Regions from separate parts of the Homo sapiens genome. Here region 2 is linked to region 1. The links come from fine-mapping of genetic effects on gene expression. Tissue or cell type: whole blood. Region 1 holds a variant in brackets; the other region holds the start of a gene. All regions are shown on one strand. Distances are between the middles of the regions.

What was found. PIP is the estimated chance that this variant, and not a neighbour inherited with it, causes the effect.
Region 2: it holds the start of USP13, and the variant in region 1 is fine-mapped to the expression of USP13 in whole blood (TOPMed, PIP above 0.99).

What each region holds. Positions count from the first base shown.
Region 1 is chr3:179,598,088-179,604,171 of GRCh38, reverse strand. MRPL47 (mitochondrial ribosomal protein L47) reads left to right here. Exons shown (of 7, transcript NM_020409.3): 2 at 1,375-1,520; 3 at 2,382-2,442; 4 at 5,401-5,497. Among named protein-coding and RNA genes, the nearest start is that of MRPL47, 3.5 kb to the left of the region's middle. RefSeq lists an enhancer at 1-244. The variant G/T (reference allele first, on the strand shown) is at 2,305.
Region 2 is chr3:179,650,195-179,656,379 of GRCh38, reverse strand. It overlaps USP13 (ubiquitin specific peptidase 13), which reads right to left and starts at 3,340. Exons shown (of 21, transcript NM_003940.3): 1 at 2,987-3,340. The coding sequence starts at 3,154. It also overlaps the pseudogene H3P13. RefSeq lists an enhancer at 2,867-3,510 and silencers at 3,179-3,518, 3,529-3,608.

The DNA.
Region 1 (6,084 bases):
AGTTTGGATGGATTAAAAAAGAAGAGATATTTGTATTTACAGGATGTGTTACAATGAAAGTAACTGGTAACTTAGTAACTTCTTTTATTTATTTATTTTTCTTGGTCCTGGATCCAGTGAAGTATCCATTTATTACATTGGTTGCCATGACTCTTTAGTCTCTATCCGGAACAATTTCTTTTTTTTTTTTTTCTTAATGTTGTTGACATTTTGATGAGATTAGCTTTTTAAGAATCTTATTCATTTGGATTTGTCTGATTGTTTCCTCATTATAAGATTTAGGCTAAATATTTTTGGTAGGGATACAACACTTGTGATAAACTTCATTATTTAGTTTCAAATCATCTCAGGTCGTTAACTATTTTTTAAAAACAGGATTTTTGAATTACTGCATAATAATTTATCATCCAGATGCACAGTAATTTTTAAACCATTCTTAGCTGCGTATTTACATAATTAAAAACTTGACATCCTATATAGTGCTTTAATAAACATCTTAATTTATAAATTCCCATCTATAATAATTTTTTCAGTTGAAACTTCTAGATGCAGAATTACTGAATTAAAGGAGGAAGTATTTGAGGCTCCTGATACATGTTGCAAAATTGTGAGGTTTTTTTGTTTTTGTTTTTTGAGACAGGGACTGACTCTGTCGCCCAGGCTGGAGTGCAATGGTGTGATCTCAGCTCACTGAAACCTCTGCCTCCCAGGCTCAAAGCGTCCTCCCACCTCAGCCTCCCGAGTAGTTGGGACTATAAGGCACGTGCTACTATGCCTGGCTAATTTTTGTATTTTTGTTAAAGATGAGGTTTTGCCATCTTGCCCAGGCTGGTCTTGAGCTCCTGGGCTCAAAGTGATCCTCCCACCTCGGCCTTCCAAATTTCTGGGATAACAGGTGTGAGCCACCGTGCCCAGCCCACATGTTGCAAAATTGACTGCTCTTTTTACCTGCGCTTGCACCCATTAGCAATGTAAGAAGGACCCAAAAATGTTACCTTAAAATATAATTGTGTAACTATGTTACCTCTGAAATTATAAGGTAGCAGCTTCTATAATGCAGTATTAACAATACTTTCTAAAGCATTTTCAAAATTTATTGTGGCCAAGCATGGTGGCTCATCCCTGTAATTCCAGCACTTTGGGAGGCCAAGGTGGGAGGATCACTTGAGCCCAGGAGTTCGAGACCAGCCTGGACAACATAGTGAGACCCAGTCTCTAAATAAGAAAAAAAAATTAATTCTTGTGCAGAAACCCTGAGTAGCTTTTTAAAATGTTATCGATGACAAAATGATTATGTTTATTATGATAATGTTTATTGCTTATAAAATCCAGATATTATAAAACTTTTACTTGTTTATGTGTGTTCAATTGCAGGTTTTTTCTTAGTTTGTTGCCTAAGAGTACACCAAATGTGACATCCTTTCACCAATATAGATTACTTCATACCACATTGTCAAGGAAAGGACTAGAAGAATTTTTTGATGACCCAAAAAACTGGGGGCAAGAAAAAGTAAAATCTGGTGAGATACTTGGATTTGTCAACATTAGATATATTTATGGAACCCCCCCCCCCGCCCCGCCCAACCATCGTTCTAGGATTATATATCCAGTTTAGGAATTATTTAGATGTTTCCTTTTTCAGTTTTCTTTGAGACTGTCTACTAGAGAAAATTAAAGGGACAATATAATAGTAGAGTTAATTGTTCCTTGGCAGATTGGCAAGATGGTTAGATAAGGAATAGGCTGAAATTATTAACTAAAGTAAGGTTTAGGGCTTATTTTAGATTTTATTTTTTAATGATAATTTAAAGTTTGTTTATTTATTTAGAGATGGAGTTTTGCTCTTGTTGCCCAGACTGGGGTGCAGTGGCACAATCTCAGCTCACCGCAGCCTCTGCCTCTCGGATTCCAGTGATTCTCCTGCCTCAGCCTCCTGAGTAGCTGGGATTACAGGCACGTGCCACCACGCCCGGCTAATTTTGTATTTTAAGTAGAGACAGGATTTCGCCATCTTGGTTAGGCTGGTCTTGAACTCCCAAACTCAGGTGATGCCCGCCGTCTTGGCCTCCCAAAGCGTTGGGAATACAGGTGTGAACCACCGCCCCAGTTAATTTATAATGACAAAGTATTTTGTCATTAGGGTGTGAAAATACGTTCTGTACTAATGCTAACATTTTTTGAATGCTATTGCCAGTCATGTTAATAGTATTTTCGTATGTTACCTAATTTATCTCTAATTACACATTGTTATATACTATAAAAAAGCTGTTATATATTTTACAGATAAAGAAACAGGTTTAGACA[G/T]GTTTAGAGAGCTTAAATAATTTGCCAAAGGGCACATGGCTAGAAATGTTATTTCATGTTATGTATTATTTTAATAGGAGCAGCATGGACCTGTCAGCAACTAAGGAACAAAAGTAATGAAGATTTACACAAACTTTGGTAAGTATACTAAGTACATTAACATCTAGACGTTTGAAGCCGTTATAGTGTAACAATGAGGTGAAAACAATCTATCTGATATAAGAAATTGAGTAAAGCGATTTCTTTTGTAGTACTATGGATGATAAATCTGATGTTTAAGATCATGAAAGATTTTATATGACAGAGGTTAGATTATGACAAATGTCACAATTCTCAAGTAGTTGGGAATTCAGAAATTTTACTGTAATTTACATTGGTCCTACTAACATGTTTATACTAGCAATTTCAGTTAATTAATAAAATGAAACAGAGAATAGTTGGTGGCTTTTGTTTTTTTCTTTGAGACAAGGTCTCGCTCTGTTGCCCAGGCTGGAGTGCAGTGGTACAGTAACGGCTTACTGCAGCCTTGACCTCCTGGGCTCAAGTGATCCCCCACCTCAGCCTCCTGAGTATCTGGGACCACAGGTATGCACCACCACACCCAGCTAATTTTTTTGCGTTTTATGGAGAGGGAGTCTCCCTATGTTACCCAGGCTGCTCTCACTGGGGCTCAAGTGATCCTCCTACCTCAGCCTCCCAACATCCTGGGATTACAGGCATGAGCCACTGTGCCCAGCCATTGGTTATATTTAAAATTCTCTCCTTTTTATTACATTTTCATGATCTGTAATCTTTAGTGTATTTGCTTTGGAAAGGTGTGTTGGAGGATGCATTTAATTGAGAATTTAGGTAGATTTTTCTGGCAGGCTCTGATGAATTAGGGTTGAGAGGATTTAAGACAGGGTTGCATTTTTAATGTACTATATGTAGCCCAAAGATATGTTTTGTTTGGACTGTAATTGTTTTTTAAATTGGGAAGTTTCACACAGAAAATATTATTTTTGTCGGCTCTTGAATAATGAGACCTGTGATTTGGCAACACCGGCCCTGCATTCCTACATGGCAACAACTTGGCTGGTGTGTGGAGCAACTGCCCCTTCTAGATGGAGCAGGGACACACCACTTCTCGGCCACCCTGTGGTTCTTTCACTATGTCTACTTCCTTCATAATTGTTATCTGCCTAGGGACTCTAGTAGACATTTGCTTTTTTTTATTTTATCTTTTTGAGACACAGTCTCACTCTGTCACCCAGGCTGCAATTCAGTGGCGTGATCTTGGCTCACTGCAACCTCCACCTCCCAGGTTCAAGCAATTCTCATGCCTCAGCCTCTCAAGTAGCTGGGATTATAGGCTCATGCTGCCATGCCCAGCTAAATTTTTGTATTTTTAGTAGAGATGGGGTTTCACCACATTGGCCAGGCTAGTCTTGAATTCCTGACCTCAAGTGATCCGCCTGCCTTGGCCTCGCAAAGTGCTGGGATTATAGGCATGAGCCACCGTGCCCAGCCAACATTTATGTTTGTTGATGTAAAGCATTGTTTATCTTTCATGACAAATTAAAGAATTGTGAAGTGTTTATGAAAACCACTGATACTATGTTTATTCATTATAGAAAAATAAGTTGTATTAAAGCACTATTAGTTACTGTGGGTTATCAGTGAAAGGATAGTTAAGGCTATTTCAACATTCATCATGGCTGCAACCAACTAAAGTTATGCCATTTCTCTTTTTTGTTTTTTTTTTTTTGAGACAAAGTCTCGCTTTGTCGCCCAGGCCGGAGTGCAATGGCACGATCTCAGCCCACTGCAACCTCCGCCTTCCATTCCAGGTTCTCCTGCCTCAGCCTCCTGAGTAGCTGGGATTACAGGCACGCACCACCATGCCCAGCTAATTTTTGTATTTTAGTAGAGACGGGGTTTCACCATGTTGGCCAGGCTGGTCTCGAACTCCTGACCTCAAGTGATCCACCTGCCTCGGCCTCTGAAAGTGCTGGGATTACAGGTGTGAGCCACTGCACTTGGCCCCAACTCGTATTCCCAAATAGATGTATTCAGAAAATCTGCCTTCACTTTAGCTCTGCTGCTTCAGTACCTTTGATTATGTTTGCTCTGCTCTCCCTTCTATCATAAATTCCATCTCTATGACTCTTTCCCTGGTCATCTTAGCTAGAAGAGATGTTTCTCATCTCCCCCACTTAATTCTTCTGGTACTTATTGCCTGTCCCACTTATTATCCCACATCACATTACAGTTTCAGAAGCAGCGTGGTGGAGTTAAAATAGAATGGATTTTATACACAGAGATCAGGGATTTGAATCTTGAATTACCTGTATGACCCAGAATACCTTACTTCTCTCAGCCTTAGCTTCTTCGTTAAGTAAGTGGAAATAATACCAACCTCAGAAGGTGGTTGTGAAAACTAGATGAAATAAGTGTATATAAAATGTTTAACACATTGTCTGGCATATAATAGGTACTCAGTAAATGTTATTTATCTTCCATCTGCCTTCTCTACTCTCCACTCAGAATGTAAGGACTATGTTTTATGCCTCTTTGTAGCTCTCTTAGCACTTAATACATGTGGCAAATGGAAGGTTTATTGAACACATGGATAAGCAAAGATAGTTTATGTATAATGGATTATTCTTTGTAATCATATTCTATATATTGAGATTTCTAATATGTCTTTTTTTTTTTTTTGAAGCAAGATCTCACTTTATCCCCAGGCTGGAGTATAGTAGTGTGATCTTAGCCCACTATAGCCTCAAATTCCTAGGCTCAAGCAATCCTCCTGCCTTAGTCTCCCAAACAGCCGGGGCTACAGGTGTGTGCTGCCATGCCCGGCTAATTATATTTTTTATTTTTTGTAGTGATGTTTATTTTTTCTAGCTGTGTTGCCCAGGCTGGTATTGAACTCCCAAGGTCAAGCGATCCTCCTACCTCAGCCTCCCAAAGTGCTGGGATTACAGGTGTGAGCCACAGCACCTCGCCTCTAAGTGACTTTCAAGTACAGATAATTAATTTTGATGTCAGAAATCACAACTTTATTAACATAACCACAGAATAGCATCACAAGGTTTGTGTTCTTTTGTATAGGTATGTCTTACTGAAAGAAAGAAACATGCTTCTAACCCTAGAGCAGGAGGCCAAGCGGCAGAGATTGCCAATGCCAAGTCCAGAGCGGTTAGATAAGGTAAGGATTGGGAGAGGCTGGAGACTGGTATACATGATTACAGCTAAAAGGAGTGAGTATGTGGTTCCTGTATTTCTTGTCAAATAGATTTTTTTTTCTTATTCGTTTGATTTTTAGTAAATTTGAGTAGTGCAACCATCATAGCTCCTTTGGAAACATTTCCATCGCCCCTAAAAGAAATCTCATACTCACCTGCAGTCATTCCTCATTTCTACCTGCAACGTGTTTTTTGTTTTTTTTTTTTTGTTTGTGTGTGTGTGTGTGTGTGTGTGTGTGTCAGTGTGTCAGGTGGGTCTCACTCTGTCGCCCCCAGGCTGGAGTGCAGTGGTGTGATATCTTGGCTCACTGCAACCTCCACCTCCCAGGATCAAGCAATTCTCCTGCCTCAGCCTCCCAAGTTGCTGGGATTACAGGCACATACCACCATGCCAAGTTAATTTTTGTATCTTTGGTATAAATGTGGTTTCACCATGTTGGCCATGCTGGTCTCAAACTCTTAACCTCAAGTGACCTACTCACCTTGGCTTCCCAAACCTACCTGCAACTTCTAACATACATGTGGACAAATGTTTTTGAGTAGATACCTA
Region 2 (6,185 bases), 52 kb before region 1:
GATTCACAATCTTCCTCCAACACCACTTTAAATCACATGACCAAGAATAGCTTTCCATAACTGACCATATAAAATCAAGATCAAATGTTTTCCAGATTCAAGGCCCCCATCATCTACTCTCTACTTGGTTCTACCTCACTTCTTGCTACTTGCCAAATGTATCTTTTTATTCCAAATACATTACAGGCAAATTAGTGGGAAATATTCACACGTTGTATCTTCTTTGCACATATAATTTCCCTGGCCTTGAATGTTGATCTCCCTTATTTTCTAGCCATCTTTGTACATAACCTTTTTCAACAGTAACCAATGCAGGGATGATTTCTTTTTTCCACTCAGCTGGTTTTGGCCTTTTCCCTAAGACATCCCGTGGCACTTGTGGATTAAAGTTTCTGGCGTGTTTAGCACCAATGGATTTTGCTCTTTATGCTCCTTACAGTCATGCATGTATGAGATGGCACATAGTAGGTGCTGAAGAATCCCTTATTGGATTCATAGTATAGTGTTACATACCATAACAAAATACTGGCTGGGTGCAGTGGCTCACGCCTGTAATCCTGGCACTTTGGGAGGCCAAGGTGAGTGGATCACTTGAGGTCAGGAGTTCGAGAGCAGCCTAACCAACATGGCGAAACCCACCTCTACTAAAAATACAAAACTAGCCAGGTGTGGTGGCACACGCCTGTAATCCCAGCTACTTGGCAGGCTGAGGCAGGAGAATCACTTGAATCCAGGAGGCAGAGGTTGCAGTGAGCTGAGATTGTGCCATTGCACTCCAGCCTGGGCAACAAGAGCAAAACTCAAAAAAAAAACAAAACAAAACAAAAAAAACCTTCCCATTATCACGCACTGTGCTTTAAGATAAATATTATCAAACCTTCCCTTCCTCCCCTGAAACATAGATAATGAAATATACTGATTCATCAGCCTTGTAAATAATCCCAGTCTCCCCTAAGGAACTGCTGTGATATGATTGCAATCATCAGTCTACACTGGACGAGATGTTTCTAGAATAGTAACATTCTAGAAACACACACAGTAAGCTCCCAATAACTATTTGTGGAAATGAATTAAAACAATCAGCCTTTTTTCCCACACCTGTTATCCACTGCATTATGCAGCAAAAACTTCCAAGAGCAAAGTTTGTAAGCAGAACTTGAAGAAGAGCCCAAATCAAAACATGGGGAAAGTCATTTGACCCACTTTCCATGTTGTGCTATCCTAAAAAACTTAGGCCACTTTCTTCTTCCTGGAGGTAACAATCTGTCAATTGCTTAAGTTAGGACCATCATCCCTCTCCACCTTTAGAAGCTATTAGTGGGAACTGCCCAACACTGGCCATACAATCTGAAAATGGCATTTTCAAATAATTTATGGATAACATCCTAAAAAAGGACTGCCGATTGTCACACTCCACTCTGTGGATCTTTTCGAAAGAAAAAAAAAGTAAACAATCAAAAATTAAGTTAGGTTTCATCCCTCAAATGATATGGAGTTACCATAAATAAAAAAACTAAATGTCACAGAGAGGATACTAACTCTGATACTCCAGTGTGTGTCGAGCAAAAGTGCTTTGAAGCCAGCCAAAATCAACCCACAGATAATAAAGGAAACTTTGGAAATGTTGCCGCTCATTTGGACTTTTCTTTTCCCCTCTGACAATAGTCCACATGCTATGAATAAAATACATTAGACCATTGCGAGACCTGCCTCGGTCCATCCAATCCATGCGCCTCCCAATGCATTGAGATCTGCCGGGTGACATATGAGATCTAAAGTGGGTGGATAAAAATAACCTGGTCCTCAAAAAGACATGATAAACGCCAGACAGCTGAGTCACTTTGAAGCCCATTTTGACTTTTGAAAGGGACATTCACCCTCCTGCTGCTTCTCACACATTCACATAGAACCAGGTGAAAACCACCACCAACCGCCCCGGGTGGAAGGCGGCGATCCCTCTCAGCTTCCTCCTCATTCTCCGAGGTCACGACTCGGGATTGAACTTTTAATAATTTATACTTGCGCATGTCAGTCCAAGTGACTCATTTAGAAGGGCAAGGTGGGGAAGGCTTAAGAAAACCATCGCAATCCAGTAGATCCCCTATTTCTGCTGCCCGAGTGGAGGCACCGGAAGGTTTCGTCTGACATTTTTTTTTTTTTTTTTTTGAGACGGAGTCTCGCTCTGTCGCCCAGGCTGGAGGGCAGTGGCGCGATCTCGGCCCACTACAGCCTCCTCCTTCCCGGTTCAAGCGATTCTCAAGCCTCAGCCTCCCGAGTAGCTGGGACTACAGGCTCCCGCCACCGCGCCCGGCTAATTTTGGGGTTCTTTTTTAGTAGAGATGGGGTTTCGCCATATTAGCCAGGCTGGTCTCGAACTCCTGACCTCAAACGATCCGCCCGCCTCCGCCTCTTAAAAAGTGCTAGGATTTCAGACGTGAGCCACCGCGCCTGGCCCTGACATTCTAAAGACAAGAAAAGGAGTGGGGTGAAATGGGAACTGGTGGAAGAAAAGCTCAGAGAGCAAATCAGAATTGTCCAGAAGTGGGGATCCCTGAGCAAAGCAAGTGGTCCCAGAAAAAGAAGGGCTGTGTGTGTCCCGGGGTGTGGGGGGATCATCCCGTCCACCTACCCGCCCTGCGCTCTGCCCCGCGGAGGACGCAAACGATCTGCAACGTGCAGTTCGGAACAGGGAACTCTTGTATTTCATCTATCTTTAAACGGCGGCGGGGCTGTGTGCAAGCTGCTGGGAATCGGGCCCTTCCAGCCTGGGGAGGCTGGCGGAGCAAAACCACCAGCACGAGCCAGTCCTCGGCTGCAGCAGCCCTGGGGCGCTCACTAAGTGTCTGCCGAACTGCAGTGTTCCTGAGCCAACTCTGCCGCCCGGAGGAAGAGAAGAGGTCCCGGCCGCCACTGCGCATCTTCTCCCCCGGCTTCACGTGCCGCAGGCCGCCGGCCCCGCGACCCTCCCCCGAGGCGCCTCACTTACGGGAGAGTCGTAGGAGAAGGCGCACTCGTTCTTGTAGACCCTGTCGCCGGACCTGGGCACGCGGATCGTGGGCATGTGGGGCACTAGCAGCTCGCCGATGTCTCCTGCAGCCATCTTCCTGCCTCCGCTGCCGCCCGGCATGCCGAACAGGGCGCCCCGGCGCTGCATGGCCTCGGCGCGCACCGGAGCCGAGCGAGCCGAGCCGGAGCCGGAGCGCGGGGTCTGCCGGCGGCGGCGGCGCCAGCGAGCGGGCTGACGGGCGGGCTGCGCGGGCAACGGCAGCCGGCCGAGCCGGGGCGGGCGGGGAGAGCGGGCTGCGGGGCGGGAGCGGGCACCGCGGGCTTGGGGCGGACTGGCGACGCTATTTTTAATCCAATGGCGAGTCTCCGGCCCAGCTGCAGCGTCAGGCGGGGCTGGGGAGCGCCAGCCGCAGCGTGCCGGGGAGGGGGCGCTGGAGAGGGGCCCTGCGCGTGGGCCGGGCGCGGCGGCGGGGGGCGGAGGGCGAACCCCTGAGGCGTTGGCGCGGGAGCTCGAGCGGGCTGGCGGCCGAACGCGGCGCGGGAGGGCCCCGGGAAAACACCACGGAGGTGTTTTCTATCCCGAATTGTTGGCTTGCAGAGGGGCAACTCCGAGGAGGCCAACACAAAGAGCAGGATTGGGGGTTTTAAAAACCGCTTGCTTTTAAAACAGCCGAAGACTAGGGCGGTGACGTCCCCGGATTGGATAGGGGCGGGACTCGATGTGCAAATCTGAAATCTAACGTGAGGCTTAAATCTAAATTTGCGCCATGCACTTCAGTGCTTCCCCACTAAGCTTCGTTCCTTACTTTAACATCCAAGGCTCAAAAATAGAGCGAATAGAATAAGATCGAGTGAGGATAGAGGGTGTGTGTGTGGGGGAGGGCGGGGTGTGTGTGGGAGTGTGTGTGTAATAATAATACAGGTTTTCTTACATATTGGGGGAAGTCAGGGATGGTCAAGATTTTTTCAGGGCGTCGGAAGGCTTTCTATTTTTCTCTGCCTTTGGAGTATCTTCTATGTGATTCAAAGTTCTCATGTCGAACATTCAGTGGCCTGATTTGAGGATTTTGTAGGCAGGCATACATATTCCTGTCTTGATCATCAGTTCCTCAAAATAAATGATGAATGGGGTTGGCCTCGGGGGTTGATCATTTGCAAGCAGAGCATGTCTCCCAGCATACTCTCATTCTCTCCAAAAAACCCACAAGACGGGTTCAATGACATTGAGGTTCTCTAACTACACCCAACATATGTATTCATGACAGAGTATCCAGTGATCCCTGCCAGTTAATGAAATGCAGAAATAGCGAGAAATAGTGAACCAAAACGCTAATTTTTGTAAGCCTCTCTCAGATCAGATAGTCCTTAAGTTCTTTTTTTTTTCTTACTTTTTTTCTCTTTTAACTCTCCCTGGTTCTCCAGACCTATCTCAAGATTTCCATACCCTCAAGCAAGCCTCGAGCGCACCACACTTTCTTATAACTCAGCACTCCCAAATGCTATCTGTTGGAAAAGGAGGAGGTGGCACTGAGCAAAAAATCAGACACTACTGTCATCTTCCTCATTGGGCAGATCCTCTCAGCGAGCTTTTGCTTTGAATTTAGTCTCATCAGCTTATTACCTTTCACGTTAATGGATGATGTTTTCTCCAATTACAGAGATAAACTTGGTTTTACAAAACTTAAAATTTAATCTTAGATTAAATACAAATTAAATCAGTGAGACACTGTTTTTCATCCTTTGGGCTGGTAAAGATATATTGAGTTAGCATGGGTTTGGGAAGTAGACCCTCATTACATTGTTGGTGGGGATAAAAACGATAAACCTCTTTGGAAGGAAATGTAATAATACCAGTCATAACTTTATATGTGCATACTGTTTTCCCCAGCATTTCCTTGTCTAGACATTTATGCAACAGATAAATTAAGGCTGTGTAAAGATATTTGTTAGAGCACTGTTTCGAGTAACAAACGTCTGGGGAAAACCTAAAGATCCTTCTGTAGAAAGTGGTTAAAATACAGTACCATTGAAAAGAATGAAGTTGCTCTACGTGTGCTGATGTGGAACAATCTCCAAATTATTACTAGATGATAAAAGCAATTTAAGCAAACTAGTGTATAAAAGCAAGGAATACATGCAAGGCTGATAATATGCAGTAGGCATTTTGGCACATCCTATATACCATGGGCCTTCATTCCAGTTGGTTGTACTTGTAGTAAATATTTTTAATGTAGCCCCTTAAAATATACATATGTGTATGCATGCCCACTTGTTTGGCTTTAGGATGTCTCTAGAGCAATACACAAGAAACTAGTCAGGCTCTGTGGAGAAGAACTGAAAGCCTGAGGTTAAGGGAGAACTTACTACCTGGTATGGTAGGGCTGTGTCCCCACCCAAATCTCATCTTGAATTCCCACGTGTTGTGGGAGAGACCCAGTAGGTGGTAATTGAATCATGGGGGCAGGTCTTTCTCGTGCTGTTCTTGTGATAGTGAATAAGTCTCACAAGAGCTGATGGTTTTACAAACGTGAGTCTCCCTGCACAAGCTCTCTCCAGTTGTCTGCCTCCATCTGAGACGTGCCTTTCACCTTCCACCATGATTGTGAAGCCTCCCCAGCCACATGGAACTGTAAGTCCAATAAAACTTTCTTTTGTAAATTGCCCGGTCTCAGGTATGTCTTTGTCAGCAGCGTGAAAACAGATTACTACACTACCACTTTGTAGCTTTCTGTATGATTCCATTTGTATTATGTGCAAGTATTGCTTTTTCCCCCCCTTTCTTTTTGGAGATGGAGTCTCCCTCTGTCGCCCAGGCTGGACTGCAATGGCGCGCTCTCAGCTCACTGCAACCTCCGCCTCCTGGGTTGAAGCGATTCTCCCGCCTCAGCCTTCCAAGTAGCTGGGACCACAGATGCACGCCACCACGCCAGGCTAATTTTTTGTTGTTTTTTTTTTTTTTTTTTTGTAGAGACGGGGTTTCGTCACGTTGGCCAGTCTGGTCTCCCACCTCGGCCTCCCAAAGTGCTGGGATTACAGGCGTGAGCCACCGCGCCCGGCCTCAAGTATTGCTTTAAAAGTTAATTAAAACTCAGCCATCGCTCTCCAACACCAGCGCCGCCTGTCACTCGCCACGCTCCAGCAGAAGAACGGGTCTAAGTAAGGAGGTCACTATACCATGG